2 linked regions of the Homo sapiens genome follow. The protein of the gene in region 2 interacts with the protein of the main gene of each other region in a pairwise test. Each region holds a gene or a part of one and is shown on either strand. Other genes may lie near its edges. The genes, in order: NR4A2 and ODAD2.

The links.
Region 1: the proteins of ODAD2 (region 2) and NR4A2 interact in binary tests that used the Homo sapiens proteins (3 or more experiments, as listed by UniProt).

What each region holds. Positions count from the first base shown.
Region 1 is NC_000002.12:156,325,435-156,341,837, reverse strand, and holds the start of NR4A2 (nuclear receptor subfamily 4 group A member 2), read left to right. Parts: upstream 1-9,116; 5' UTR 9,117-9,327; coding exon of another isoform or gene 9,328-9,358; exon of another isoform or gene 9,359-11,046; 5' UTR 11,047-11,170; exon of another isoform or gene 11,171-11,649; coding exon of another isoform or gene 11,650-11,651; coding exon 11,652-12,515; intron 12,516-13,304; coding exon 13,305-13,434; intron 13,435-13,823; coding exon 13,824-13,987; intron 13,988-14,917; coding exon 14,918-15,120; intron 15,121-15,509; coding exon 15,510-15,688; exon of another isoform or gene 15,689-15,691; intron 15,692-15,837; coding exon 15,838-16,094; 3' UTR 16,095-16,403. UniProt on the Homo sapiens protein: Transcriptional regulator which is important for the differentiation and maintenance of meso-diencephalic dopaminergic (mdDA) neurons during development.
Region 2 is NC_000010.11:27,995,958-28,012,661, forward strand, and holds the start of ODAD2 (outer dynein arm-docking complex subunit 2), read right to left. Parts: upstream 3,123-16,704; 5' UTR 3,037-3,122; intron 2,941-3,036; exon of another isoform or gene 2,846-2,940; intron 2,744-2,845; exon of another isoform or gene 1,534-2,743; intron 1-1,533.

The sequences.
Region 1 (16,403 bases), on a different chromosome or scaffold from region 2:
CTCCCGAGAAGCCGAGATAATAGAGGCCCCCTCTCCCGCCGCCCGCCTTTTTCTCCTCCCCCGGCCGCTCGCTCCTGTCGCCCCACCCCTCGAAGGCTGCGGACCAGCCCCCCACACTTCCCCCTACACCTCTGGCGGGTTCGCGCCGTGGACGCCCCCGCCCTGCGGGAGGAGGGGCTGGCGCGGATTTTAGGGACTTCCTGGGATGCGGAGATCGGCTCTGAACCATCCCCTTTCTGCTGCCCGGAGCTGGGGAAGCTCGCTGTGGAGCGTCTCGCACGTGGCAGGCAGGCAGAGAACTTGCTGCACCTTCTAGGAAATTGCAATCGATTTGTAATGCACTTTCGCTAATTGGGAGTTCAAAATTAAACTTTAATAAAGCATTCGTGTCGTCTCGTCTAATTGTGAAAGCTTCCATCCGTCCTGGTAGATAGACTCTAAGTCTCAAGTTAATGGCGCTAAGCTAGATTTTCCCCCCAAGTACAATTCCGTCAGCCGTCGTCGGCGCAGCTGGATTTCCGTAAGGTACAGATGTTGCTAATGACAGCTTAAGCACGGATGGGCAGATAGCATACGGAATGCAACATGTTGCCATATGGTTCCTTTAGCCTTTCACCTCCAGGGATATCAATCACATATATTCTGGGAGGAACTTAATGACTCTCTGAACAGCAAAATGAATTACCTGGTACAATTTATATCCCTTGACCTGATACGTTATAACAACAGGAAGATAGCATCTCGCAATTTCTGTGGTATAAATTGAACTACAGAGCTACATTTAAAATTCTACATCTATTTGTAGTTTAAGGGGCCCTGTCATATTCTGGCTGTAAAATCTGTTTCTGTATTGCCCATCTCCTTCCCCCTCCTACCTCTGGAGGAAGCAAAATTTATAAAGTTTAGCAAAACTGGTGTCGGAAATTGCCAGTCAACTGATTAATAGATGAAGTATGGAGAAATGGAAAATATGACTTCCAGAGCTACTTACTTCAACAAGAATTAGCCATCTTTAGGAACACCATACTTTTAAGCGTACAAAATTAAAGAACTCCAGAAAATGTATTTTCTGCTAGTTGTTTCAGTATAGCTCCTAAATCTATTCATTAACTATTTGAAATTCTCCATTTATTTTCAAACTTCAACCATTCCTACACTTTGGAAATTACAGAAGACAGTTCTCAGAAATATGAAATACAGGAAATGTAAGTAGCACCTCCTCAGCGAACCAGTTTCTGTACCCACAACCCCATGCACTCACTATTTATGTAGCTTAATTTGAATCATGTACATGGTGGTACTGGTAGTTTGCTTTTTCCTCCCAACATGTCAGTGACAGCATACTTAAGTTGCTGCTTCTCTCCTAGTGGAGTGATTCTGCAATATTTCACAGGTCTCATTTTTAAATATCCTGGTGACTAATAAAATGTTTTAATTGATTGCCTTTAATTTCAGATTATAAACGTGGTTGTCTTACTGTATCCTTTATTTTCTATTCACTAATACAGATAGATCACACGGGAAGACAATACTTTAAGGGCAAAAAGTAAAATAACTTACTAGAATTTCTAAACTTTATGTTTACTTTTACCTACTAAGGGATATCTGAAAGGTAGAGACATACTTTTAAAACTTTTTGCTTCTGGCACTATGTAAACATTAATTCATGTAAACTAATGACTAGCAGAATGCCTAAGATAGACATGAACAGTCTGAAAAAGTATTTACTTTCAGTCATGTCAAGTTTCGGAAAGTGTTAACATTTTGAAAGTTTGTCTATATATCATGTCCTTTCATAATTATTGTGAAATTATAAGACGATGCTTCTCCTTTTTTTTTTCCTTTGTAGTGGCTGATTTGTTACCTAGTGCTTTAGTTCGATAATTTTGATAATTATTATCAAATAAGATCCTTTGTGTGTGTATATAGGAGAAAATCTTATACAGAACACATTAAGATATACATAAGTTATGGCAATCTTGTCTTCTGGGGCTGTTTTTTAAATCTTTTAATGGCTGAGGTTTTATTTCTCTTTGTAGCACCAGCACTCGATGTGTCTTAAATGTGATCAGTAGTGATGGTGAGCTTGTCAATAATGACTCCATCTCCATGACTTGTGAATAGGCGGTGAGTGTGTCCTTTAATCAGTCACACAGAACTTGCTTTATAAAGCTGTTATTGTCATGAACAGATATTGCAGTCTTGTCAGGCCCAGTGATTATTAAAGTGTTCCTTCTTCAAAAGCCAGGCCGAAAGTCCTGCTGTGCTTCATTTCACAATTGAAGTCCATTAGTAAATAAAATCCCAAGCCGCACGATTTGCTGTTCCTCAAGTTATAGGCTTACATATATTTCATTAATAATCTTGGGCCCTTTTGTAGACATAAGTAGGTATATTTTTGGTATATATATATGGCAACAAAAATAAAATATGTATCTTGCAGCATGACTTTTATTTTAAATGAAGATTTGATGGATGTCCATTGTTACTCTAAATGAGGTGGCTGGCTGCCAAGGGAAACCCTACAGTCAGAAAGTACTAGAATTGTTACTATCTACAGGGAATCACTTTCTATTTTTTGAGTTCTCAACTTCACCTCCTCCTTTCAATAGTGCCCCTCCATATTGCTAATCTGAGAATTAGTCTGAATATGAAAACTTTTGAAAATATGTTTGTGTTGTCCAAGAAAAATTTCACCAGTGTTTCTGGTTGCCTGCTGGTTTTCAGCCTTTATCTTGAGTGGGCATGTTTATTCTAACTGAATGAAGAATGACTATTGAATTAGGTATATTCCCCATGCCAAATAATTTTAACTGTGATGTAATCCTAGCCGCTTTCTTATTTTTACTCCCGAATAAATTTAAAATATTTAAGATTGGCCAGGTGTCTGTTTTTCTCAGGGTAACATGGGACAGCTATGGATAGGCATTAGGCCTCTCATAGAACTCTTCATTCAAGTGAGTGTGGCTGAGAGGAACAACCAGGAAAGAGTATAGTGCCCCATTGCACTTGCCCTGTTGGCTTTTCAAATGCAAAATCCACGTTGTTGCATTTGGAAACTTGTTTCTCTGTTTTATGGTATTTCATTTAAGAATTTTTTTTAACTGCCAGTCTGTAAATATTTAACCAGCCAAGCAGGAAACAGCCTTTTATTCTCGACTGTATACAGCTTTTGTTTTTATCTGGGTTAGCATGGGTGCCATGTAAATACCATATAAAATTTGACTTTGGTTGTCCTTACTTTGAAGATTGACAGGGGTTTCTTTAATTAATCTTGTTTCCTTTCATGTTCTGTATTGAGATATTGAAATACAGTATTTTATACATTTATAGGATTGTGTTTGCATTTATTTAATTTATGTTTCTTTTTTTGAAGCATGTAGCCTTGAATGTTTGTTCTACCCTTTTTTTTTTTTTCACATCATTACTCTGGTGCTGCTTGATGTAACTTGATTAGCTCCCTCCCCAGTCATGATTGGTAATTAAAATAGGCATTAAAATTAGTCACTTAGCAATTTTGCTGTTCAATTGGCAATTAAATTACTTAATTGCAATTAAAGTCCTAATTTTAATTGGCAAAATGATAGATGTAGATTTAAGATAATATGTATAAATACTTTAATAAGTGTCTATATAAGGATTACTTAATTACTCAACTTCAAGTTTATGCTGTTAACTTTAGAACTTTTAAGTGAGCAATGAAATTTATATTACATCTATTCAAAGGATATGGTAATTAGATTTATTACTTATCACTATAAGGGTCCTTGCTTTAAGTTACTTTTGTAGTGTTAAAATTGTAGGCTTGATAATTGCAGAATTCTGATGAGAAAAAGGGCATATATGTCTCTGTTGCAATATTATCAATACCTTCATTTTTAAAATTAAATTGAGACATTCCATCCACCAATTAGTCTGAGGAAAAAATCAAAAGTGGTTATTTTATCATTAAAGATAGAACAAAAACTAGCCAGCTTGTGATTTACATATAAAAACTTGCAAAATGTATGTATTTTATCTAAATTTAAATAAATGCTATCTAATACTGGTAGTGTTATAATGCTATTAACTACTTTTAGAATTTGCAGATATTTGATGTTTTCTTAGCATGTAGCAACTTATTTTCATAATCTTTAAACTGTCTTTTAGGACTTTGTACATTTTAGTGATGCCTATGTTTACTAAAATTAGCAATGAAATCTAAAACCAAAGTTATTCTTCTTTGCCTAATAAAAAATAGTTCTTAAATAAGAAAATATTAAGTGGTTAATTTAAAAGCAAGTATTTAGGAGATGGTTACTGGGTGTCAAGTATTAACAAAAAATGAAGGATTTTTATTATGCAAAATACTTTTTGAGTGGCATGAGGTTTTACCATATGTTCAGTTTTATAATTTCAATTTACAAGAAGATGCTTCCAGAAAAAAGAATGCTGTTTTTTTTCTGCACATCTTTACACATTTCTAGTACTGAGTTCTGTATCAAAGAAAGAAATAATTTTAAAAGTATTTGTGTTAAGTGGTTTTTGGTAAAAATCGGCTGAGAAATACTGAATAAAAGCTACAACTATCCAAAATGTGAATATTAACAAAGCAATTGACTTGTTCTTTAACCATCCTATGAGAAAGGAACAAACAATTTGGTCAATTACTATCCTGTCAATGCAAATGAAATGGCAAAAGCAAAACAATAAAAACACTTTCAGAAGTAAAAACTAATTTTGTATTTTCAGAAACAGATTTTTTTCAAAGTGAAAATTTATTTCTTGTATCAGTAATGTGACTTACTGCCCAATGGCAACAAATGCTGTGAATGAGTTTGTCCAAATGTAATTTAAAATATATATCTTGTAATGCTAAAAATAGGTTCTACAAAGTAATTTTATTATGAAAAATCTTAAAGTTGCCTCAACTCGTAAAGCATAACAGGTATGTCTGTTTCACTATATCTGCATTGTAAGGTCTATTCTGAATTCATTTGGGAAGAATGGTGAAATAAATCCCTAAAGGCCTCTTTCCTATGCATTAAAATAGAAAATCCTATGGGATTACATTCATGTTTGCTTTCTAAATTATGCCAAAAGCTCAATTTTATTAAGTATAATCTGCCTAGCCATGCATAAAATAAACTACTTTGGTTTAGATGTGAGTATATGTATTATTTATGTTGATTTTTAATGAAAATATGTTTACATGTACCAATATGTTCTGCCTAATATTGGTTAATGTCATAAAAGATAATATAGTAACATTACTTTCCTAAATGTTTTTCTGTGGTCATCCAATAGTGTTTCTTAATAGTAATGCTTTTTAATTTATTTTAGTTGGTTTCAAAAGAGGATAGGTGCAATTTTTACTCCCACTCATTTTAAAAACTGTTAAGAAAATAGACCTTCATTGTGGGGTAACTTTACACATTTATACATGGCAATAGTTTAAAGTTATATCGGCTGCGGGGGCCTGAAAAAGCCATTATTGTCATTTTAATTGAGTTATAAAATACTTTATTTGAACTATTTATGTTCAAGAATCTTGAAGGGTTACAGTCATATAAATGCAGAATTTCAGTTTCTTTTAGCCTAAAGCATCGTTTTAACATTTTCTGAAAGGTTGTTCAATTCTACATTTTGATTCCATATGTGTAATTAAATCTCTATGCACAAAAGCATTCTCTTATGTACTAGCAAATATACCCACAGGAATCTCCTTCTAAACTATAATTTATTTAACATGTAATCATAGGATTTTAAAACATGCTTTCATTTTTCCAAACTGTATGCCAATTTGAACTTCTTGGTGATAAAATGAGAGATTTTATTACCAGTTTGATTTTTTCCTTCTGTGACCTAACAGTGAGTTAAGCATGAGCAGGAGGAAATAAAGAAAATCTTTTGTGAACCTAATCCCATGTGTTAAAACTGTTTCCCTTTTGGAGAAAATAGAAGAGAATCAAAGATTTTTAGTTATTTATGAATTCCAGCACAATATGAATATTTGGGCCTGCAGCATTCTCTTTGGTTTAGCTTAGGTAGTAAATAGCTTGTGTGTGTGTGTGTGTGTGTGTGTGTGTGTGTGTGTGTGTGTGTGTGTGAGTGATTCTCTTGAACGTTGTGGAGTCAGGCCCCCTACTGACTGGATCAGTCAATTACACACACATTGGCGGTGCTACTGAGACATCGTCCCATCAGAATCTGGTGAGGAAAACTAGTCTGGGGTTTTGAGCGTGGCCTTTTTTTTTTTTTTAAACACTTCTGATCTATATGCTGAATCCTTTCCAACCCATCTCATCCGGGCCTTACAGAAACCCTAGCCTAAGAAGTAGCTTATTCAAAATTGGTTTAAACGAGTTTAACAGTCTTACATCCGGCGTGTCTTCCTAAGAAACAGTAAAAGCTTCCCAGAAACCAGAATAGGACTTTGAAGAGGAGAGAACTCTTACACAGATGATGGAATAGATGAGAAAGGTCTCCCCTTTCTCTCATTTTAATTTATATTTAATTTTATATTTAATTATATTCCCAGTTAATAATAATTGTTATAATAAGCTGCTGTGAAAACGACCCTTCATTCTTGGTTGCATTAAGACTTGGACAAAGGCTGTTATCAGGAAGCCGCACTCGACAGGTTGTTATTAAAGAATAAGGCATCATATTACAATGTTTGGCTTCCTTGGAGCTCACTTTAAGAACTCCAGGACACTTTTCAGCTCTCTGGGGAGGCATTTTCAAATTGTCCCAGGCTCAACCCAACCTAAACTGAATGTGTTTTTAATGGCAATGAGGGAGGGGGAAGCGTGCAGAGTGAATGTATCTACTTAGACGGGAGTATGTGTATGGAGGCTGGTGGTTACAACCTTCAAGTTCTCCCGGCCCCCGTTTTCCTAGGACTATATTAAAAAATAATAACTGCCACCCCGGCGTGCCTGTGCTTGAGTTTCCGACTGCCTGAAAATAGCGGCCGGGAGCCTGGCCCACCGCGGGGATCAAGGAAAGCTTCCCGTGGCCGCGCCCTGCTCCCTCGCGGAAGGGGAAGGGAACCCGGGAGGGCGCCTCTGAGCTGGAGTTGCTGCTATTTTGGGCCCAGCCTGGCCGGTGCGTCAATGCCTGCGCCCCTGCGTCACCGCCACCCCCACCCCCTTCCTTCTCCCCAGCTCTCCAAACTCTCACTTTTTCCCTTTCGTTCGCATGGAATCGCTTCTGCCCACGGGGCGCTGACGCTACCGAGCTCATGCTAATATGCTATTCTTCGCCCTCCCCTCCTCATCCCCCTACTCACACACCCTCACCCGCCACCACAACCCGCCCCCCCCACCCACTTCCTGGTTTTATTTTTTTTCTCGCGCCCGCTAGGGCATCGCCGAGCAGCGGCGGCGGCGGCAGCAGCAGCGGCAGCCGCAACATCTGGGGGAAACTTAAGGTGGTCACGTAGGTTTCCCCGAGGCTGCGGCGCAAAAGAGCCCGCGGCTTCCTGGGGCAGCCGCAGGGCATCTGATGGCAACGCCTCCCCAGCCGCCGGCGAGCTGGGGGCAGCAGGGAGTAGGCAAAGGCGGGGCTGCAGATTAGGGTTGAGCAGCCCGGGATCCCGAATAGTTCCACGGAGCCATCGGCCGGTACTGAGAACACGAGTAGGGGGGCAAGTTGCAAAAGGGTCCCGGCTGCCTGGAAACGAGCCACACCGAGAAAGGAGGGGCGGCTGGGACGCTCTGCGCGAGTAGAAAAGCGGGGGCGGCTCCGAACTCTCCCTCCCAAGGCCCAGCCGCTGGAAGCCCCGCGGGAGAAGCCCTAGGAAGCCCTCCCAGCTCCGGCCGGGAGACGGGGAGGGGGCTTGCCCTCCGGAGCTGCGGCGTTTCCTTTGCTAGAAAGCTCCCTGCGCTCTCGGCGTGGCTAGGGGAAATGACTTGCAAAGCAGAAGCGGCGGCGACTTGGACGGCCGCGGGGGTGGGACACGCTCCCAGAGCCAGCTCGGGCCCCTCTCCTGGCTGGGCTGTAGGCTCACACCTTACGCTTTGCGGAGACGCTGCCCCCAATCCCCACCCGCTTCGCTTTTCTTGTCCAGTCTTTCTGGGCTCTAAGATTGAGGCTGTGATAGACCTTGTGTTTCAAACGAAGATCGATTTATTCCCTTAAAACTCGTGGAAGGGGTACGAGTTGGTGGGCACAGAGGAGTATCGAAAGTATTAGAGTTTGCAGAAGGTGGGAATCAGAGTACCTTTCTGCAGAAGGCGCACCTGTTGCCTGCTGCTCGGCTGCATTGTCTGCGAAAGGAAAAGGGGCGACGCTTCACTCTGACTTTTGGGGTTTCTAAAGAGCTGGGTCACGGTCACTGTCTACCCTCTCCCCTTCCTCTCCCCCCCCCCCGCAAGCACCACGTCCTCCATCGAACGTGGGCACTGCATGGAAATAAGGAAACATAGAAAAATAAGCCCTACCCCCACTCCCATTCCCTTTCAGATGGGAGTGTGGGGGGTGGGGGTGGGGTAGAGAGAGTGAGAGAGAGAGATAATTAGAATGAATATATGCCAGAAGAGGAGGAGGCCTGGGACAGGAAAAGGGAGTAAAAGGGGATGAACCGGGTAGGGAAATCCCACCCGAACTGCGTGAGCCCTCTGAGCGTCTCGTGTCATGGGACATCTGTACGCTCTTCCGCTAAGGGGGTGACGAAGGTGGGTGGGAGAGGTTAGGGCGCTGCAAGGCACATCCCATTCCGTGCGGCTCCAGGTGCGTACTACCTGGCCACGCCGGCCTTGCCTTCCGCCGGTGCTTTTGTTGCACCCTCCCCACATGTGAGCGGCCGAGCCGCTGCGCGGGCGCAGGGGCTTCGGGGAAAGTGAAGTGTCGCGACGCTGCGGGCTGCGCAGACCTGGGAGAGGTCACACCTCTTTCGGAAAAAAAAAAAGAAAAGAAAAAAAACACCAAAAACCACCCAAGCTGGCTACCAAGGTGAACGCAGAGCGGTTCCCACCTTAAAATCGGCCCTGCTCGTGACGTCAGGTCGGAAATATACCAAAGCGAGCGCGGGCCAGGAGTCCAGGGAGCGCGGCAGCGCGGCGATTGGGCGGCGGGCCGCTGACGCGCGCTGACGCGCGGAGACTTTAGGTGCATGTTGGCAGCGGCAGCGCAAGCCACATAAACAAAGGCACATTGGCGGCCAGGGCCAGTCCGCCCGGCGGCTCGCGCACGGCTCCGCGGTCCCTTTTGCCTGTCCAGCCGGCCGCCTGTCCCTGCTCCCTCCCTCCGTGAGGTGTCCGGGTTCCCTTCGCCCAGCTCTCCCACCCCTACCCGACCCCGGCGCCCGGGCTCCCAGAGGGAACTGCACTTCGGCAGAGTTGAATGAATGAAGACAGACGCGGAGAACTCCTAAGTGAGTAGATGCAGCCCATGCAGTTCGCCTTCTTTTATGCTTTTTCCTTCTTTTGCACGTCTCTTCTTTCCACTTGTGTGGGACAGGTTCTCTGGAAGTGGGAGCCAGAGGCTTCTAGTGAGAGTGGGACCGAAGGATGGGGAGTGCGTGCGCGCAGTTACCGGGGGGCATTTGTTCGAACTCCGGCTTTGGCACTAGTGGGGAGTTGGCTCTCGACAGAGGTTTCCAGGCTCCTCATTGGTGGACGTGGAAGGGAGACTCCACAGTTTGGGAGCTGAGGACTAGCCCGCGGAAATGTGCGCAAAGTTTGCTGTTAGTGAGGAATTGATTGTGGCCTGTGAACACGGAGACTCCAAGTCCTATGTATACGAGGGAAGCTGCCCACAAACTGACAGGGAGAGGAAGTTCTTCAGTTTATGCGTTGCTTGGGAACTGTGTCTCCGCGGCTGGCCAGCGCGCGATGTTTCCCGGGTATTGTTGAGTAAGGGTGGTGTTGGTAGCGTGTCCTGTTACTAAGTTGCCTGAAATTTCTGGTTTTGACATATGCTGTCCTTGGGTTTGCGAATGTATCAGAGCGAGAATATGAATATGTAAAGAGTACAGTTATGAAACTGTGGAGCTACCAGGGGGTTAATATCCAACACAGGAATATCTCTAAGGGCTGTGGGGTTCGAGTCTCCTTTCTGCTTTTTCTGGGTAATCTTCCCCCCACCCCCACCACCACTATGAAGCAAGATTGTGGGGGAGGGGAAAGAATAAAAAGAGAGGATACTGGCTTTCTTTTTTCATTAGTAATAAGATTGTCTGTGCTCTAGAATGTCTTCCAAGTGGGAACATCTGAAAATTGCTAGGACACAAGAATGCCTTGTTCCAGAAAGGCAGATTGTGGAAGGCATTATGGGGAAGGTGTTCATCTTGCTGTGCTGGGAAACACTTCTAATATTGGTGCCAATACCATATAAGCAGTATGTCCCCCCTCTGCAATTGACCTAAGAAGCTCCTGGAAAAGTAGATCCCCTCTTCCCACCTTGTGACCATTAAGCCTTGTGACCATTAAAGATGCTGAAAGACAAGTTTTCTGGAAAAGTGAACATCAATTTATCTGTAGCTCCAATCCCAGTGCTCTGTCAAAAGCACTTTAGAAGTGCGGATGCTTCCACTCAACTTGCCTTCTCAGTCAAGGCCTTTCTAACATTTTGTAAGGGGGAAGATTGTTTTCTCATTTTATATTCTTGACTTCTACTTTCTTCCCCTCTACCAAAAGAAAAGGCAATTTCACCACAAGAAAAAAAAATGCAAGAGAAGGTTCCAATGCTGTATTTTCATACTCTAGTCTTCATACTCAGGTCCTGAATTAACCTAAGATGGAAATGACCTCTCCACCTACACTGTAGCAAAGGGGCCAGTTCATTACATCATAAATGTTAAATGAGTTCATGGACTAGCTTTCCTCTTGCAGGATCTTCTCTCTGCAAGGATTTACACAGTGCAATGGGTGGTATTTTCTGTTGTTTCAAGTCATTTCTTTTATACATTCATTTTAAGTGCTATGTTTGGTAAAGGCTTCCCACTCATTTCCAATGAGACAAACAGGGAAGGCATGGAAGGGCCTGCCTGGTGAGTCTACATATGCCCAGCTGAATCTCTGTCGGGAAGAAACCCTGAAGCTTCCTGTGTCTGTATTTCAGGGAGGAGATTGGACAGGCTGGACTCCCCATTGCTTTTCTAAAAATCTTGGAAACTTTGTCCTTCATTGAATTACGACACTGTCCACCTTTAATTTCCTCGAAAACGCCTGTAACTCGGCTGAAGGTTAGTGCAACTTCATTTCTTTCCTTTACTCTCCAGAGCTCCCCAAACATCAAGAAACAGGACAAGGCAAACCCTGTAACTTAAGGTTTGCCCGACCCATCGCCTTCGGGAACAACTTTCTCATTGTGAAATTCAACTTCATTTCTAGATGGTCATTTCTAGAAAGAGACTGCTGAATCTGAGCTTCAGAGAAGAGGCTCATCTGAGTGGGATGAGTGGGGGGGTATGAGGGAGATGTTTGGAAATACCCAGGAGTGTAGACCCTCAGTAGCTTTTTAGCTCTGGGTCTTTATTTGGTTAGTCTTTCCACGCCCTAAACTGTTGTTCTGCAGCATTCTCTCTCTCCTGCCTTTCCTCTCGCGCCCCTACATGCTCTCTGACTGCCGCGGGCTGCCGGTGTAGCTCCAGGTGTACCCGAGCCCGGGAGAAAGTGTTCAGTTGACCAGGCTGAGTGTGTTATCACCCTGTTTCATTTCCAGCCATGCCTTGTGTTCAGGCGCAGTATGGGTCCTCGCCTCAAGGAGCCAGCCCCGCTTCTCAGAGCTACAGTTACCACTCTTCGGGAGAATACAGCTCCGATTTCTTAACTCCAGAGTTTGTCAAGTTTAGCATGGACCTCACCAACACTGAAATCACTGCCACCACTTCTCTCCCCAGCTTCAGTACCTTTATGGACAACTACAGCACAGGCTACGACGTCAAGCCACCTTGCTTGTACCAAATGCCCCTGTCCGGACAGCAGTCCTCCATTAAGGTAGAAGACATTCAGATGCACAACTACCAGCAACACAGCCACCTGCCCCCCCAGTCTGAGGAGATGATGCCGCACTCCGGGTCGGTTTACTACAAGCCCTCCTCGCCCCCGACGCCCACCACCCCGGGCTTCCAGGTGCAGCACAGCCCCATGTGGGACGACCCGGGATCTCTCCACAACTTCCACCAGAACTACGTGGCCACTACGCACATGATCGAGCAGAGGAAAACGCCAGTCTCCCGCCTCTCCCTCTTCTCCTTTAAGCAATCGCCCCCTGGCACCCCGGTGTCTAGTTGCCAGATGCGCTTCGACGGGCCCCTGCACGTCCCCATGAACCCGGAGCCCGCCGGCAGCCACCACGTGGTGGACGGGCAGACCTTCGCTGTGCCCAACCCCATTCGCAAGCCCGCGTCCATGGGCTTCCCGGGCCTGCAGATCGGCCACGCGTCTCAGCTGCTCGACACGCAGGTGCCCTCACCGCCGTCGCGGGGCTCCCCCTCCAACGAGGGGCTGTGCGCTGTGTGTGGGGACAACGCGGCCTGCCAACACTACGGCGTGCGCACCTGTGAGGGCTGCAAAGGCTTCTTTAAGGTGAGCAATGGCGGGAGCGGAGTAGGCAGGTAGGGAGCCCCTAGTGCCCGGGACCTCGGAGTGTGCCCTCTGCCTTGGTGCCAGTAGCCCAGCCCCAGCTCTCCCGGGACTGCCCAGCTCTCCGGGGTCCGCCGAAGCTGCCCTGCAGGAGACCATGGGCTGCGGCGGGGACTTCCGGGTGTCTGAGAAAGGGAAGCAGAAAGACTGGGAGGCCAGGGTCGCATCCCCCTCGCATTCAGCCGACCCGGCTGGCCCCCGCCCGAAGTTGCTGGAGCCGGAGTTGGAAGAGGGTCATTTGCATGTGCTAGGAGCTGTCTTCCCTGTTCAGAATGAAATTGGTTAGGACAGAGAACCGTGTCTGAGCTAACCAAGTGGAACAGAATTCCCTATGGTCAAATTAAGTGATCTCTTTATTTCGCCATCCTGATTGAATAATCTTATCATTTTAAATAGAGAAGGTCTCCAAGGAATGTAAATAATATGAATGCCCACGGATTTGTATTTACTGAGCGTCTCCTTCTCCTTCTCTTGGCATATAAAACACAGCAAGGAGCGGCAAGGTTAGCTCAAATGTTAACGCTATCAATTTTCTTCTGTTAAATGCCCTGGGGGAGGAAAAAAGAAAAGAAAGAAAGAAAAGGAAGAGAAAAAAATAAAATGGAATTGTGTGTATGTGTTTGTTTGTGGGGAGGAATCGTAGACCCCAGTCACATAACAGAAATTTTCTCCGAGTTGCCTGATTTTCAAAAGAAGAAAAAAAATGTTGGTCTATATTGTCTCCTTTTGCAGCGCACAGTGCAAAAAAATGCAAAATACGTGTGTTTAGCAAATAAAAACTGCCCAGTGGACAAGCGTCGCCGGAATCGCTGTCAGTACTGCCGATTTCAGAAGTGCCTGGCTGTTGGGATGGTCAAAGAAGGTAGGCTGAGGGGAGCTGCCGACCCTCCAGTTTGCGCCTTTAGGAAACCACTGCTCATACTCCAGCATCACGTTCCACTTCCCGGTGCTGGGGATCTCCGACTCCCCCTCAGTATGGCCTCCAGGACCCTGCAGCTGCCTGCTTGCCCGGCCTTCCCTAGAGAAAGCCGCCAGGCCCTTCTCTCCTTTAACTATACGACCCATTTGGAGGAAGACATAAAATAACCCCGCATTTTTTAATGCTTCTAGTCAGTGAAGGCTTTACAAGCACTGGGGCCCTCAGCCGCTCAGCCTGGTGCCCCGCGGCTGCGGCCTTCCCCGGGGAGGGACCGAGGCAGCAGCTGGGCCTGGGCTCGGAAAAGCGGCGCTAACAGGGCTCTTCCTTTGCAGTGGTTCGCACAGACAGTTTAAAAGGCCGGAGAGGTCGTTTGCCCTCGAAACCGAAGAGCCCACAGGAGCCCTCTCCCCCTTCGCCCCCGGTGAGTCTGATCAGTGCCCTCGTCAGGGCCCATGTCGACTCCAACCCGGCTATGACCAGCCTGGACTATTCCAGGGTAAGAAGCTGGCGGGGGGGATATCATGTGGACAAACCGACAGATGGGCAGGACCCCTCCCCACATCCGTCATTAACTCTCAGATTCAACGGGGGTAAAGAAGGCAAGCAAGGCTGTATATGCCTCGCAGCTCTGGCCAGGGCCTCAAGATTCAGATCTTCAGACAATCCATGTAGCTGGGGGCATAGACATGAGGACAGGATGGAGGAAGGAGGAGAGGGACACGCCACAGGGTTTGAAGCTGTGTGAATTCCCACTACCCCACTACCCCATCGCCCCTCCTCTTCCATATACACCAGTGCCTCTACCATGAAATCCAGGGGCTGTGCAAACTCTCCCCCTTCCCAATCTACTTTATTCCCAGTCCTCCATAGAGATAGATGCTTTAATCCTCATCCTTCCTGGCACTGTGCTGGGGAAGGATGTGGGGGCCTGTCTGGGGGTCAGGGAAGGGAAGGAGAGGGTGTAAAGAATGCCAGTGGGGTGGGGGATCAAGTGGTCAGATCCTTTTTACTCCAGCTGTGAAAAATATGCGGGCTTTAATTGGAGGAAGTATGTTGAGCAAACCTGGTAGGGACTGCAATTTTATTAAGATTTGCAAAAGGGCGTCTCAGCTCGAGGCCCACTCTGGGACTAGCATGAATACTAACATGTCAATTGTTTTGTGGAGATAAGAGTGAACGTTTCCCAGGGCTGGATGGCACTGTATTTAGTCTGTATGGAAATGGCAATTTACATATTTAAAGCAGCGACCTCGTAGCACCATCCCTAATTGAATTAATTGCCCCGGAACATCTAATTTCCTTACTGGTCAGAGAGAGGTTTAATTGTTATAAAAACCTGGCTCCCCTATTAGAAACGGGGTTAGCAATTTCACGGGTTATATATTTTAGAGAACCTCATTAAGTGCTTTTTAAAATGAAATTCCAGTTCCAGGCGAACCCTGACTATCAAATGAGTGGAGATGACACCCAGCATATCCAGCAATTCTATGATCTCCTGACTGGCTCCATGGAGATCATCCGGGGCTGGGCAGAGAAGATCCCTGGCTTCGCAGACCTGCCCAAAGCCGACCAAGACCTGCTTTTTGAATCAGCTTTCTTAGAACTGTTTGTCCTTCGATTAGCATACAGGTAATAAGGGAGGGAGGGAGACAATCCAGGGAGGCTGTGAGAGAAATCAAGAAAGGAAAAGAAAGGGAGGAAGGGAAACCAGAGGGTGGGGTAGAGAAAAAGACAGAATAGGAAATGGAAGTCGGAGAAAGGAAGAAAAAGAAAGAAAACAAAAAAAGACGAGAAGAAGCGAGCCCAGAAGCCTTGGATGAATGGAATGGAGGTGGGATAGGGGGCGTTCTTGATTGTTATGAAATTAAACCCTTTCAAGGTCCACTGGTCTACATTTTATTAACTCTTCAGTAATTAGGTGACTCTTAAATCCCTCATTTATTGCTCTTCAAGTAATTAGTTGTTTAGCTTTTCTCTCTCTCTTTTTCTCCCCTCTCTCTCTTTGGTATTAATTGCAGGTCCAACCCAGTGGAGGGTAAACTCATCTTTTGCAATGGGGTGGTCTTGCACAGGTTGCAATGCGTTCGTGGCTTTGGGGAATGGATTGATTCCATTGTTGAATTCTCCTCCAACTTGCAGAATATGAACATCGACATTTCTGCCTTCTCCTGCATTGCTGCCCTGGCTATGGTCACAGGTCAGTACTGCAGGCGCAGGGCGCTTCCCCTCCAGAACTGCCTAGCAGGATTTGTCCTGAGTTTCCCTTGTCACAGATTCTCCTTGGTTTTGCCAACTAGCTAACTGTCTTGTACATTCTTCTTTTGTTTCTGATTATGTTTTCTGCAGAGAGACACGGGCTCAAGGAACCCAAGAGAGTGGAAGAACTGCAAAACAAGATTGTAAATTGTCTCAAAGACCACGTGACTTTCAACAATGGGGGGTTGAACCGCCCCAATTATTTGTCCAAACTGTTGGGGAAGCTCCCAGAACTTCGTACCCTTTGCACACAGGGGCTACAGCGCATTTTCTACCTGAAATTGGAAGACTTGGTGCCACCGCCAGCAATAATTGACAAACTTTTCCTGGACACTTTACCTTTCTAAGACCTCCTCCCAAGCACTTCAAAGGAACTGGAATGATAATGGAAACTGTCAAGAGGGGGCAAGTCACATGGGCAGAGATAGCCGTGTGAGCAGTCTCAGCTCAAGCTGCCCCCCATTTCTGTAACCCTCCTAGCCCCCTTGATCCCTAAAGAAAACAAACAAACAAACAAAAACTGTTGCTATTTCCTAACCTGCAGGCAGAACCTGAAAGGGCATTTTGGCTCCGGGGCATCCTGGATTTAGAACATGGACTACACACAATACAGTGGTATAAACTTTTTATTCTCAGTTTAAAAATCAGTTTGTTGT
Region 2 (16,704 bases):
AGTTATCAGAAGAGTCTAGCAGTAAAATTTAAAACCAATTCAAGTGAGACAAATTTCACATTGGCTAAATAGAAATTAGTCTGTAAAAGAAGATCTTTTAAAAAGTAACAAAATCTGTAACGTTAAATAAGAGCCAAGTTAGAAAGCACGTTCTGACTTCATAATGAACATTTAATGCTTTTTTGGCAGATAATCTATACTTGTTTCTTTTCTCTTTTGTATAGCACTTATTGATAAAATCTTTCTTCCAGAATATTAGAAGAATGGTTATACGGTTAAATATAGAATAAAATTGGCTTTTTACTCCCATCATTATTAAAAAGGCTTAAAGTACAAAGATTAGACTTGGAGATTTTACATTCTGTACTGTATTAAATCTTTGAACTATCTATTAAATTCAATCACAGGAGATCACTGGATGGCAACAGGGCAGTACTTCCTGCTGATAAAGAGTATAGAAATATTATAGAGATGTCTAGTTATCAACATGATAGGAAAGGGGGCATTATCGGCCTTTAGTGTTGAGGACCGACAATGTAAAATATCCTGTGCAGGATAGTACCTCAGAAGGAAGAATTCTGCTGTAACCTCCAGGCATCTAGTAAGTGAAAAACTTCAGATAAGCACTACCTGAGCCTAGAATTTTTCTGCACTTTGCAAAAATTGCAGAGTATTTTGTCACAGTTTTATTACACCCTGAATTTTCCAGAATTGTAGCTACCATAAACGAAAAGAAGGTTGTACATATTTTGTTTTACATGGAATTTTACCAAGAGCTCAGCATTTTGGAAAATGACACCATTGATGGCAATGTTATTTGAGAAATTTAAGTTGCAATGGCACATCTGTATCAGTCTGCATTTGGGGCTGCTGTGTTCACAGTCATTCTGTGTAAGGCTGGACATCTGACTACTTCCCTATATATTCTAGTGTAGTGGTACTTGAGCGTTTACATGCCAATCTTTTCTTACAATTATTTTCTTTCATTTTACAGTTAGCACACTATCAATATTTAAAACTATATTAAATATGTAAGATTATAATCTATGATATTGATTTCAGGATAGCAAAGCAGCCTTACAACATATATGCTATAAAAACCAAGTACTGGATCAGATAGGGTGGAGAACAACTGATCCAGACATATATACCAAAGTGGTCATGAAATAAAGTGCAGAAATTAGTGCACAAATTTGTTCTGGGTGTTTGTTTTAGTATTCTAGCATTTTGTTTCTATTGCTAACCGATGAGAAATGCTTTAGATTTAAACACATAAACATGTTCTGATGTGTATGTGTGAGACTCTTGAATTTCCCATTGTTGTGTAAAATAAGTGCAAATCAGTGTAAAATAGTGTGAAATAAGTGCAAATAGCTTTATCTTATACAGAAAGGCTTAGGTGAAAGTTCTGTCTGTCTTTAATCTTAAGTATAACATTTGTTTTGGTAATCTTATAAAGATTGCTTCTTGCACATTTTTAAAGAAAAAATGCGAAATTAAATAGATTATGTAACGCTATGGTAGTCAACATACCATATAGTAACTTCTTGAAGGACCCTTAACACAGAATTAAGAAATGCAAAATCGTTATTTTCGTCAAGATAAATTTTGACAGAAATGTAACATTTGAATCTATTCAAATTGTATTTCCAAGTCTAGTGAACCGTAGCAATGCACAAGTTTTATTCAAGAAGGTTGGTGAGTTTAAGAAAACCTCAGGGTGGCCTATGACAATCCAGAAGGCAAGATCAATGTTATTAGAAAATAAATAAATAAATAAATGGTGTTCAAAAATGGTCGGCATAACTCAAAACTAAGATTTTAAAATCAAGACCAGTTGCTCCCCGGTTTCTGCCCATTGCCAAGCTCTTTTGGCTTAAGAACCATAGTTAAAATGAATCCATGTAAATACACAGCACACACCTTTGAAGTAAAGAAAGTAAGTTTAAAGATTAAAAGGAAAAAAGTTTTGGTTACGTGTTTACATAAACTGGGATGTTTACATAAACTGGGAATCACTTAGCACTCATTTTTCTCTTTATCCAATAGATACCACAGATTGTTTTTCTTTCTAAAGGTCAATTTCAAGCTTCCAGCATCATTAGTGAAATGAAACCCATTCGGTAATCACATCGTTAACACTTAAACAGAAGCACAACCGAATTCTTTAGGGGGCTACGGAAAGGCAGCCATCAGCTCTGAGATCTATGAAATGTGGTTGGTAACATCCACGGGGAGTCCGCGCATACACTGCTTTCTGAGAATGCAGAAGTTACTCAGTAAGACCGACAGAAAATCGAACTTTTAGACATGACATGAACAGGGCCCTAAGTAAAACCAAAGCTAAGCCTAGTGTGGGATGACGGCCCCCACCAGACTCGTTACAAGAAGGGGGCGTCAGAGCTGAGACCCTAAGTTTCCAGGAATGGATTCGGTAAGGGGACGAGGAGGGAAGGGACGGCGAAAACCACGCTGGGAGCGGGAGGCAGAGCTGCAAAGGGCGGAGGAGAAAGACGGGCTGGGGGAAGGAGAGGCAGGGAAGCGGCGGGAGAAGTGGAGAGCGGATCCGGGAGGTGATGGGGCCGAGGTAGTGCAGAGAGGGGCGCAGGGACTGAGGAGCAGACGGTCCCCAACCTAGGGCCGAGGCAGGGTCTCGCGGGGAGGAAGGAGTGAGATGGGGCTGGGAGAGAGAAGGGAAGGGGGCGGGTCTTGGTCCCCGGGAGGGAAAGGGGAGCAGGCGAGAGCGGCAGCGGCGGGGCCAGAGAGCCGCCTCTGTTTCCCGATCCACGCGGGCGGCTGCAGAACCCCTGCGGGGGTGAGCGTGGAGACCCCCAGCCGCACTCACCTGCAGCACCCTGCCCCCCGCAGTCGGCGCCCGCCTGTTGCTAGGACGCGGGTCAACACTGCGCGCCCTGCGGCCGCGCACGCCGGCGCCCTTGTGGGAGGCCTACAGGGCCCGTGCCCTCCCCCGGGCGCCGCCGCCGCCGCCTTCCGCTCCCAGCCTCACCCGGCCGCGACCGCAGCCCAGTCCGTTACCCTGGTCTCGGGACCTCCGCGCATCCAAGATTCCCGCGGACCCGTTGCACCGTATGCCCGCGCCAGAGACGCTCTGCGCCCGCGCTGGGTTCCACCCGCCCCGGCCACCTGCTGCTTTCCGCTCGGCCCCTCCCGGGAAACACTTTTATTCAACTTTGCATCTCCCTTTCTCAAACACTTTTATGCAACTCCCGAGTGTGCACCCTAACTCACTCCACGCGGTGGGAAAGGTTGACTTTGACAGAGGTCGTGAGCAGTTGCGGGGTCGGCGGCAAGTTAGCAGAAAACTTAAAATGGAGCAGAAAGGAAGCAGAAAATATTCCTTAGAAACCCCTTTTTACATTTTTCCATAGGCTTCCAGACAAGTGCGTTGTATGTACCTGAAATCTTCACTGAGTACCCCCAAATAGCATAGGGCTTCTCCTAGGATATTTGAGGCTTACATGTTTCTCTCCAAAAAAACAAATATGGTAGAATACTCTGATACTCACCGGGAAAGCAGAAAGCGCTCTTCAATAGGGCAGAGGATCGGAGTGAAATGAAAACATGTCCCCCATCTCTTTTTTTAAATGGCCTTTACCTTTGTCCATTAAGATGGTTTTGACCCCACCTCTAGACACCCTACCAGCAAGAGCCCCAACTGGAACACCAGTGAGGGATAAAGGAGTGGGAATATTGAGGTGGGGGGGGATGGGGAAGAATGCACTATCTTGGGGTGGGGGGACACGGTGTTTAAGGACCAATGCCGGAGCACTTAGGATGATGGGGTGTTTAGGAATTAAAACTGGATTCTTTTCCGGATGCCAAAGAGGCAAATGTGGAATGATGTTAGGATATCACCTGTCATAATATTATACGGATTCAGCTCAAAGCAGAACCTTTCTGCAAACACGTAGGGATATGAGGTATAGATATTTGTCCTTTGTTTTGGGTTTTTTGGAGGGTGGGGGACGAAGTCTGGCTCTATCACCCAGGCTGGAGTGCAGTGGCACGATCTCGGCTCACCGCAACCTCTGCCTCCCATCTCGGCTCACCGCAACCTCTGCCTCCCGGGTTCAAGAGATCCTCCCCCCTCAGCTTCCTGAGTAGCTGGGATTACAAGAATGCGCCGCCATGCCCGGCTAATTTTTGTACTTTTAGTAGAGACGAAGTTTCACCATGTTGGCCAGGTGGGTCTTGAACTCCTGACCTCAAGTGATCCACCCACCTCGGCCTCCCAAAGTGCTAGGATTACAGGCATGAGCCACCATGCCTGGCCTGTTTTGGGTTCTTTTCTTCTCTTTTTGAAAGTGCGAAAGTTGTTAGGAATGGAATAGTTTCACCTAAAGGAGATACTACCTGCAGAGAAGCTTAGACTTGCAACCAGTGAGAAAGGGGCTTATGCTAATAGGTATACAGAGAAGCCCTTTTAAAAATGGGTGGATTACAGTCTGAGACAACAGCATCACACCTGTGGCGGTAATGCAGGTCACAACCTGGTGAGGAGCAGAGGGCATCCTTCGGAAGGATCCTGGAGTAGTCCCAGTCCTGGAAGCAAGGAAGCTTCTGTGGGTACTTTAGTTCCTCTGCACATTTTAATCAGCTGTATGACATAAGGGAGCATTACTGGGTCCAATGTGGATGCCAGCCAGAGATCTTCCAAGTTCAGGACATTTCACCTTGGTTTGCAAAGCTGGAAAAAGCCAGAACCCACCAAGATCTGAGCAACTATGTCGTTGTTTGCCAAATTCATGCCAAGTTGCTTAATCTGATGCCAAAATGTGAATTTATTTTACCGGATATTTTCCAAGCAAAAATAACTTAATAATATTTAAATCTGAAGAAGTCCCAGTCGCCTCTTTCCAATTTTTCCTTGTCGTGATGAAACACTACCTGGGCCCAGTCACTCCCTGAAGGATTTATCATGACTTGTTTTTTTTTTTTCTTTTTTTTTTTTTTGAGACGAGGTCTCATTCTGTCACCCAGGCTGGAGTGCAGAGTGCAGTGACATAATCATAAGCATAGCTCACTGCAGCCTCTGATTCCTGGGCTCAAGTGATCCTCCAGCCATGGCCTCCGAAAGCACTGGGATTACAGCCATGAACCACTGTGCCTGGCCATAACTTGTCTTTGCCTTGTTGCCCATCTGCTACCCCTACAAGGTAAGCTTTATGAAAATAGGGAGCTTTTCTGCCTCCTTCAAGTCTGTACTCCTAAGATCTAGAAGGATGACTGGCACGTAGAAGGAGCTAAATTCATGAATCGCCTAGTCAAAGATGCCTTGCTTCCTGACACTCTTCACCAAGCACCAGAAAGGCAAGGCCCACATTTTCTTAGGGTTAATAGAACCAGCCTGAGGATTCTAAGTAGCCGTGATCTTGGAAAGAGCCTTCATCACTGAGGGCACACCCGGGGTTTGCTGTACCAGAGGCCTTTACCAGCCCTGCCCATGGCTAGAGTGCAAGCACATGGTGCAGCGCTGTCCACTGAAACTTTAGAGAAAATCTGCCACAGGCTCCTGGGAAAAACTTGATAGTTTTTGGTCCACCTCCGCAACATTACGTCATCTACAGCAGGGACCCCACCCACACGCCACACCTTCTGTCAGATCAGCAGTGGCATTAGGTTCTCATAGAAGCATGAACCCTATTGTGAACTGTGCATTCGAAGGATCTAGGTTACAAGCTCCTAATGGGAATCTAATGCCTGATGATCTGTCCCTGTCACTCATCCCCCCCAGATGAGACCGTCTAGTTGCAGGAAAACAAGCTCAGGGCTCCCACGGATTCCACGTTATGGTGAGCTGTATAACTATTTCATTATATATTACAATGTAATAATAGTAGAGATACAGTGCACGAGAAATGTAATGAGCTTGAATCATCCTGAAACCATCCCCTCCCCCACACCCTATCCATGGAAAAATTGTTGGCCATGACACTGGTCCCTGGTGCCAAAAATGTTGGGGACTGCCGATCTACAGGGATTCTTATGAAACCATCCACCCTGGCTTGGGCAAATCTGTTCCTCTCATGTATCAGAGAGTTCAGACACAGATTGCACACATTAATTTGCTAGGGCTTTTGTAACAAGGTATCACAGACTGGGGCGGCTTAAATACCAGAAATGTCTTATCTCACAGTGCTGGAGGCTAGAAGTCCAAGATCAAGGTGTTGGCAGGATTGATCCCTTCTGAGAGCTATGGGGAATGAATCGATTCCAGGCTTTTCTCCTCAGCTTGTAGATGGTTGTTTTCACATTCATATGATGTTATCCCTGTGTGCTTGTCTCTGTACACAAATTTCTGAATTTGAGACAGGACCTAGGCTAGAGTGCAATAGTGCAATCACGGCTCACTGTAGCCTCGACCTCCCAGACTCAAGTGATCCTCCTGCCTCATCCTCCCAAGTAGTTGAGACTACAGGCATGCACCACCATACTCAGCTAATTTTTGTGGGCTTTTTTTTTTTTTTTTTGTAGAGATGGGGTCTCGCCATGTTCCCCAGGCTGGTCTTGAACTCCTGGGTTCAAGTGATCTGCCTGCCTCAGCCTCCCAGAGTGCTGGGATTATAGGTGTGAGACACTCCTCTTGGCTTATTTCCTCTTTTTTTTATGAACACCAGTCATATTGGATCAGGACTCACCCTCATGAACTCATTTTAACTTGATTACTTCTATAGAAACCCTATGTTCAGTACGGTTGCACTCTGAGACACTAGAGGTTAGGACTTCAGCATACGATTTTAGGGGGACACAATGTCACACATAGCATTATGTAAAGATGTGATCAGCAGGCTTCCAGCGCCCATTCATCTGTGTCAGAGTGAAGCCGACTAAGAATTTATAGGCCATAACCAGGGAGAAAGTAAGAGGCAAGGTTGGTTTAAGCATCCAGTACCTCAATCAGGAAAGGACTAAGACAGATGAAATAAACCTCCTGAGGTTTGCAGGGAATTACAGTCATTTATATTTTGTCGTAATGGGGGTAAGTCTCATTATAGGGCGGAATTGCCTCTCTGTGGAATTTTTTAGGAGTTTTCAACAGAAATTCCCATGAGAGAAAATTGCATGAAGTCTTACGAAGTCCTAAAAACCAAATTCACCAGATTCTACCCTCTCTCATAGATAAAGACAAAAAGTCAGAGAAGTGCAGCCTCAGCTGCCTCCCTTTGCCCTCTGATATTTCTCAGTGATGCATTGTGGACCAAGGCCCACGGCCTGGAAATGAAATGGCTCCTTCTCCTTAGATTCTAATCTCCTAGACATTCATTTACTCAATAAATGCTTTTTGGATGCCATTTTGTGCCAGGCACTCCATTGGCAGAACTCGATTATCCAATTCAAGTCCTAGCCAAAAAAGGAGCCTACTAAACTCAACTCAGAATTCCTGGACTAGAAGGAGAGCCACTGGCATGAAGCACAGTAGCAAAGGAGAGAAAGGAGAAGAGACTGAATCGGTGGGAAGGACTGCATGAGGTGGAACATTTAAGCCATGATAACAATTGAAATATTCTTCCAAGAATAAATGAAAGTTACTGGAAGATTTTTAGCAGGGAGTGACATGCTCCGATTTCTCTTGTTAAGAAGCTGTTCTGATTACACAGTGGAAGTAAACTAGAGAAATGCATGAGTAGAAAGAAAGAGACTATTAATAAGACACCTGGCCTCAGGTTCCCCTGAGAAATAGACTCTGAGATAGAGAAGGGCATGTAAGAAATGTATTGAGAAGTGCCCTCAGGAGAGTGAAGGCAAGGAGATTAGACCGAGAGAGAAGCTGAACTGCCATGCAGCCACAACCATCCCACAGAGAGCCCTGAAGCTGGGATGGCCCAGCAGTTTTCCCATATTGAGGCAAAGGGGCTGGACCTTTAGATCTTCTCATCAACTGATCATTATCAGCCAGTCCCTGGGTGCAGGCTGTCCCCAGGAATAGGGCATAACCTTACTCTTTCATTTGAGGGCTATCATCTGCCCATAATCCCCAGCAGCTGAGGGCAGGAGTGCTTTGGTCTTGGAGAGGTGGGATGGGTTCAGATATCTTGACAGTCCACTGCATCCCCTACTGTCCACCCCTTGCACAGCTGAGATCACTAGCATCATGCAATACAGCTCTGAGAGCGGTATCTGGGAGCAGCTCTTCCGGAATCCTGGTGGTCAGCTTTCCCTGGGGAAATTTACAAGTGAAAGATGAGACAAAATTGCAAGCCCTGGCTCTGCAGTTGGTCTCCAAGCCAAAACGTATCCATTTCTGCCCTCCTTTTCTGCCCATTCCAGATTCCCTGCATGTTTCACTAGCACTTTTGCTGATCTAGATGGTTTCCTTGGTGGGGGTGATCCTGACCCTCACTGCTGAGTTTCTGGCATCATGCCCTTCTCAGGTGGTGACTACTCTATACCTTTACCATCAAAACTGGGAAAAGACATCCTTACCCCACTTTGCAACAGCAACCTCCCTCTTCCTGATGATCCAGGGCAGTTTCTTCTATTGGGATCATGACTCCTTCACTTGCCTTTTTGTCTCTTGCGTAAAGAGTCCAAAGTTATGAAATAGCCACCATAACTTAAAGTTTTATGTCCCTTGGTGGAACATTCTCCTCTAGGAGCCATGACCTCTAAATGTGCAGAATAGGCTTCAGGTTCACTGGATACTGAGTGCATGGGGCCCTGCAGAGTGTAGACTTAAATCCAAGGTCATGGTAAAACATCTGAAGTTCATTGCCAGGACTATGATGGTACAGGAAGGGCCGTGGAGGGTACAGGACCCTCAAAGGAATCCTCACTGTAGATGGACTCATTGAGGACATTAAGCATCGGGGATACCATCAGGGGTACGATGAGAAGCCATGCCGCTGTTGACAGCAGGAAAGCTATGAAACCTGCCGGCAGTCCTACAGCAAGAAATGACTCGCAAGATCAGATTCCTGATGCAAAAGAATTGGACAGACCTGCGTCAGGACTGCTGAAGCCTTTGGATAGGACTCCCAGCATGAAAACCTTGTCCAGTTTATGTCTCCACCTGTTTTCTTTCTACAACTCTATTTTCTAGTACCTTTCTCTACAATAAACTCAATCACTTATATGCAAGAAGGCCTGCACATAGAGAATGATCCCATTAGCCAGCAGTGCTCCTTTTCTTTTATTAAGTGAAAGAAGAAACTGAGTCCAAAAGTAGTCTAGGAGTACAATGGTGTTTGCCAGGGACTAGGAGAGGGGGCAGTCGGGAGTTATTGTTTAATAAGTACAGAGTTTCAGTTTGGGAAGATGAAAAAGTTCTGGAAATGGATGGTGGTGATGGTTGTGCAAAAATGTGAATGTACTTAATCCCACTGAACTGTAGACTTGAATGGTTAAGATGGTAAATTTTACATTTTTACTACAATAAAAATTTTTTAAATCTTAAGAAAATATAAATGTGCAGAGCCCAGATCTGTGGTGACAGGAAGCACAAATTTTCCCACATGATGGGTAAACTTGGCCACTTATTCCATCTCTTGGTTCTGGAACCCATGCAATTTACCCTTAGGAGTCATAGCCCCATAGAATGGCTGTTGATTTGGGGCATATACTGCAGCCTGTAGGATGGCACCCCACCCTCATGGGGCCCCACTATCAAGCTCGCATTTCAGCCACACCTCCTAAAAGGCTCCATGGCTCTATTAGGGCAGTAGCCAACAGTAGAAACTGGGAAGATCTACTACTTTGGAGTAGACCTAAGTGCCCCTTCACTGAAAGTGTTGAGACCGGATGACCAAATATAAGAAGAGATGTAGAAGGCAACAGGGATGGAGGCTATGCATGGGTCCTTCTTGCTGACACCAGTCTGACCAATGCCACTGATAGTTTCCAGTCCACCAACAGCAGAAACTGACCTTTAATATGGCACCATTCCTGGAGAGACCAACTGGGGCCTGGTAGCAGGTCAATTACATCATATCCCTTCTACCTTGGAGGTGGCAAAAAGCTTCCTCCCTACTAGGGCTGACACGTCTTCCAAATGTGAGTTTGCCTTCTCTGCACACAGTGCCTCCGCCAGCACCACCATCAAAATGTCTGCATCATGGGAGGATCGCTTGAAGTCAGGAGTTTGAGACAATCCTGGACACATAGTGTGACCCCTTCTCTACAAAACATTGTTTAAATAGCTGGGCATGGTGGCACATGTCTGTAGTCCTAGCTATGCAGAAGATTACTTGAGCCCAGGAGTTCAAGGCTACAGTGAGATGTGATTGCACCACCACACTCTAGCCTGGGCAACAGAGCAAGACCCTGTCTTGGGAAAAAAAAAAAAAAGCCTGATTCACCCACATGATTACCTCAGATTCACCACAACAATGTATACCTCAGAAAAAGAGACTCATTTGAGACATCAAAGATGCAACAATGAAAGACATGGAATCAACCCAGATGCCCATCTGAGTTGGATAAAGATGGTTGGATTGGATAAAGAAAATGTGGTACATATACAACATGGGATACTACACAGCCAAAAAGAAGAATGAAATCATGTTCTTTGCAATTGCAGACCATTATTCTAAGTGAATTATTGCATAAACAGAAAACCATATAGCACATGTTCTCACTTATAAATGAGAGCTAAGTATTGGGCACCACAGACACAAACATGAGAACAATAAACACTGGCAATTCAAAAATGGGGAGGGAGGGGGAAAGGGTTAAAAAACTACCTATCAGGTACTGTGTTTACTACTTGGGCAATGGGATTATTAGAAGCCCAAATCTTAGCATCATGCAATGTATCCATGTACCAAACTCTTACATGTACCCTCTGAATCTAAAATAAAACAAACAAAAAGAAAGATACAACAATAGGCTCGTGACTGTGACAGCCACCAGTCTTACCTTGGACCATGTCACCTAGAGACAGTCAGCCTGATAGCACGGAAGAATGACACATTGAGGGCTCAGGTAAGGTGCTAGTATGGCAGAACTCTTTTTAGGGCTGGGTCTCCATCCTCCAAGATGTGGCATATGCTCAGAATTAACAGTGGATATGTGATACGCAGTGCTGTTTTCCTTCATTGTTAGAATTCCTAGGTGTGCAAAACAAGGAGTGAATCTTCTCACCAGAGCTCTCAGTGACCTACCTGCTTAGGGAATTTGAGCTTCCAATTATCACTAACCTTGGGCTCTGCCAGACTAGAAGCTCTACTTGCCATGGGGAGACTCCATCCATCAGGGAATAGATTAAGGGTTCCATTGAACTTAAGGCTGTTACTACCACCTGGCTACATTGGGCTCCTCATGCAAGTAAACCAGCAGGCCAAAAAAAAAAGGGGGGGAGTGGGGGAGTTATTACACCCGTTAGGTCATGATTGGCCATGATTGCATGGGAGCTAGGGTGCTACCATCAGGAAAGAAGATGTTTAGAACCCAGGGACCCTGAGAATTCACTTCATTGCTCCTCCATGGCTTACAGTAACCACAGCATGATCAAGGCAAGGCAGCTAAGGGCTCAAACCCCTCAGAAACAGAGATCTGGGTCATCCCATCAGGCAAGCATCCCAGACCAGACAAAGTGTCAGCCTGAGGGCAAAGGACATTTATAATGTGTGATCACTTTCTTCTTTCTAGCTTGTCTTCACCATTTCCTACCTGGGGGTTCACTCTAACCCTTTGGGTGAAAAAGAACAGGGAAAGAAAAAAAAAAGGAACAAGGAACCTGTTTAATTGTCTGGTCCTGCCATAAGCTAGCTTTGCATTCTCTGAACAAAGCCGAGGCTGGCTGTCCCTCTTGTGGGTATTTTTCTCGGTTCTTCATAAACCTTGCCTGGTTGGTGTCCTTTCCTTTGTGTTTTGCTCCAACCCAGAACAAGCTTCTCTATTCTGGCTGTAGTCTTGGGAATCTGGCAGTTTACTGTCTGCTGAGGTCCTATAGCTGCCATCCCACCTCCATCTCCCCCAACCAGTGAATTTCCCTTCCCCCACCCCAACAGCCTAAATCTGATCCATGGGATGTACTCACACATTATTTGCCCAGCAAATTCTAGCAGTGCAGCTCGATGCCATCACTATAGAAGCTCTCTTGTTCTTTTCCATCAAAGCCACCAGACACAGCCTGTCTCTTAACCCCAAGAATTCTCAGCTGGGAGTCAGACACTTGTCCACTCTGTCCTCCCCGACCCCCAACCACACAGGACATATATTTTGCCCTCTGAGTAGTCCCTTGAAGTCCCTTTTCTCCCTTCCCCTCTGAATTGATGTTGGGGGCCAAGAGGGCAGTGAGTAGAGAGGCAATGCCTTGGATGACTCTCCAAAGAGCTCCTCCCTGGAAATCCACTCATTTCCCTTCTATAACTTCAGTGTGAGTGAGTCAGGTAATTGACTTCCCAGTTATAGCTTTTACAGTTTTGTATCTTAGCCTTGTACCCCACTGTGGAATGAATTGTCTATTGTATCTTGAACCAGCGAAACAATTCTAACATCCTCTTTCTTAGGTATACGTACAAACTGTGGATGGTTACACAACAGATCAATAATGCGTATATATATTGCCTTAGGAAGTGAATGGATGGGGAAGAACTGTTAATTTTTAAATTTATTTTCCTCTTTATCTTTTAACATGTTAAAATGAGCCTATGTTCCTGTAGTAACAAAAATTAGGATGGTATAAGAGACAATGAACGTAGAACCTATGAGTAAATTTAAATTTTATATATAATTAAAATTAGGCCATATATCAAATATCCAAGTATAATAGGTTATTTCATATATATCAAACAAAATGATTTTGGTTCTGAAATAAAGCTGTAGAATTTCCTTAAACATTTTGGCTTGAAGAAACTTCATGAAGAAAAAGTGTTCTCTCCAATCCTTATGTAGTATTTACATGTAATGCAGTTGGCTGGCCTTCTGACTAGGAAACTTGGGCAAGAAAATGATCAAAATGACTGGAATCTCAAATTGAATTTTGGGGGACAGGATAAGGATGTTATGAGCTTCAGTACTCTATTTAAAAAAAAAAAAGGAAATAAATCCAGGAAAGTATATTCTGTACTCGGTTTGGTCAACACCTCTAGAAATGATGAAAGTGGTCATGGGCTCAATGGTGTTTTAAACCCACGTGCAACATTACGAAACTTCCAGTCAAATACAGTTATTGTGCACATCCCAAAAGCCCACTAAAATGACAGTGGGGAAAGAGAATGGGAGGAAGGAAGAAATAGACAAAACATGTCAACAAAATGTGAACAATAGAAAGCAAAAGTATTAAACTAGCTTAGCAGATCAGAGAGAGATGAAACCTAAATGCTCCAAGGGGTAAAAGCCAACAAAAATATGTTTGTGAATCAGACTCTGGGAAGACTTAGAATTTCCAGGCATCTTTTTCTTTTTCCAGTTAACTGCAAATTAAATTTTCTTTGCCCAATCATCAAGTTTGACATAAACAATTTTGATATTTACAAAGATTCTTTCATACAAATCTGTCATAATTTCATATTGCTAGACATTGAGTTTAGTTGGTTTTTATTAGCAATAACCCAGAAATGAGTATATTTATTCTCAAATATTTATTATTATTTGGAAGTATATGATCCTAGAAGTTGAATTGGGTCAAGGGACATAAATACTTCTAAAGTTTTTAATGAATTTCACCAGATTGCTTCTCAGAGTTTTCGTCAATTTGTTCTCTATCTTCAGTGTTGGATATTTTTTTTTCTCACCGTGAACTATCCAGCACTGAAGTAGTCTTCTGAATTTCATAGCTCATTCTTGCTCTAATTTGAATTTATTTGGTTGTATCACTGGTAATTTATAGCATTTCAACGTACTCTTAATTTTAGTATTTTGTCTTCTGTAAATTTTCTGTTCACACTTTTGGGAATCATCTCTTACGGCCAGGATAGAGGTGGGCTGAAAACAGGAAAACTGCTTGAAAGTCTTGTTCAAAGGGTAGCAGAAACCCATTTGTATTCTTTTTCTCATTAGACAAGTTTATAACCCAGGGCACCAGGCACAGCCATGAACACTGTACTAAAACAATGGGCATGCTGAATGCTGAGAGCCCCCTCAACCCCTTCTCCTGGTCACCTTCCTCGCACTAGAAACCCAGTATACATCAGCAGGCAGATCTGAGACTGACCAGCCTGAAAGCAAAGATCTATAGGTGCTCACATATAAGAGTCTTTTCAATCAAATATGCAAGTCTTGGAATAGGGCAAGTGTGTGGGTAGAGTGGGGAAGGAGTGATGGAACAGAATTATACCATCTTCTTCCAGAGTAAGAAGTCAATGATAATCTCTTAAAAAGAAAAATCAGAGCTGGATACAATGGGACATTCCTGTAATCCCAGCACTTAGGGAGGCTAAGGCAAGAGGATTGCTTGAGCCCAGGAGTTCAAGGCTGCAGTGAGCTATGATTGCACCACTGCACTCCAGCCTCGGCAACAGGGCAAAATCTTGTCTCTTAAAAAAAGATTAAAATTAAACAAAATAAAATAAGGAAAACAATGGCAGTTTAAGCATGTAATTTGGAAATGTAGAAATGTTTGAGCAATGCTGAAGACAATGGTAAGAGTTGTCGTCCATCACTATGACTTTCAGGAAAAGAACAATCAGGAGCAAATCAACTTCTCAAGAAGAACCAGCATCAACCACTTTGTAGAAGGCTTGCTCTCCATTATCCAGGCTGGGCTAATCATCACAAAGGCTTAAATAGATTCAGTCCTGATGAACACAGACCGTCAAAGGAGCTGAAGCTTCTGTGAGAGTCAAAGACAGCTACAACAATACTGCATAACAAACTGCCCCAAAACTCAGTGGCATGTGTGTATTTATGCTCACACTCCAGAATCTATAGGACATTTGGAGTTTCAATTGCAGTTTGGCTGATCTAGGCTGGGCCTGACTCAGAGGCTCTGCCTCAGGCTATATTTCTTCTGGGCTTGGTTGCAGGTTGTGAATCTGCTCCACAGGTCTCATTCTGGAACCTAGATTCAGAGGCGTGACTACCAGTGACATGTTCTTATCATGGTGGATCACTTCCATGGACATTCCAAATCTCTGATTGCATCATATCCACTGACATCCCATTGACCAAATCAAGTCATATGTCAAGCCCAAAGTCAAAGTGTGAGGAACTATTATTTGCCAACCATGAAGCCATGGCAAGAGTGTAGAGACATGACATCACTGTGAGAGAGTGAAGAAATCATTGAGACCAACAATTCAATCTGCCAAAGCACCCTTCTTCATCATATCATTCATCATTTATCAAATATGTTCTGATCTTGGTCATCATTTCCATTATATTACCATGGTGGTTTGGTCGCTTTATCCTATTCCAGCCTCTTAGCAAGAATATCTAGGATGAAGAGCAGAATTAATGACTAAGTGTACGAATTTGCTTCTTTTTTATGCAGTTATTTAAAATATTATTTAATATTGTTATAAATCATTGTATTTAAACACTGTTTTATTCTAAGCTCTCTTTTTTATCTAAAAAATAAATAGGAATATATTTTACTCTTTAAAAATGTTTGAACTCATTGTATGTCAAGTGGAACTTTTTCTGGATTTTTTAAAAGTCGAAACACACAGCAAAATATCTTGGAATGTAGGGAAAGTTATTTGATATAGAAAATGTGTAGTCTAGCCAAGAAGTGATTACTCCAGAAAACCTCATGGAGGATAAAGGATTTAATGTGAGACTTGATATTTTGGAAAAACAAACTGAGGATTAATAATATCCGGGTGATGTCTCCCAATAACACCAAAGGAAACACTGAAGACGTCTTAAAAGAATGGCTTCCAGATGCCTAGTAAATCATGTGTCCATATACCAAATGAGAACATGGCTAAGGGAGAATGTTTCTTATTTTGAGAAGGGATGCATTCTTTGGGTGACTAGTAGTATTTTGCACTTCAACTTTGTAATATTATTAAAGAGATAAAAGCCACGGGCATTATCCTTTTCAAATAATGAAATGATGAATAAACTATTTGCAATGAAAATCAGTTTTACCATACAATGTGATTTATTCATAAGAACATAAGTAAATCAGGGTTTATGGTGAGATGATTTGTTTATTTCACTGACTGGAATATAGTTCAAAATCTTGTACAGTGGAAGGAGGATGACTGTAAAAAGGAAGGTAGAACAAGAAAACCGGGATGACGCTTTGCACACAGGAACGTTCTTAGAAAAAATTTTTTGAAAGAACTGGAATTTGGAAATTGATTTCCCGTAAACCATCTTATACCCACATACCCTTTGAAAAAAATTCATGTGTACGTCAGTTTGGAGGCCACTTACTTAGTTCATTGATAGAGTTCCCGTATTTCTATGCCCTTCGAGGTCTTAAGTCATTTCCTCCTACACACTCCATTATAGATTTGCACCAATCAAAATGCACCAGAACCTATTAGCTTTCAGAGCTAGCATCATGAAATGCATTTAGTGAGGTCACTGGCTTTTAGTTTTCTATATTGAAATCTTCCTTTGACTTACTCTGTGGTTAATTTTCACATCTCTTTATTACCTGGCAAGAGTTTGGGCTTGAACAATTCTTCTCTGGGTCTTGTCACTGGATTGAAAAACAACAGCAGCAGCAACAGCAGCAGGAGCAAAACGAGTTTTTAAGGAACACAAACAGATTGTAATCCGATATCGTAGAACAGAAATTCGAATGTGTGCATTCTCTGAGGGATATTTCTCTTAATCAATTAAATT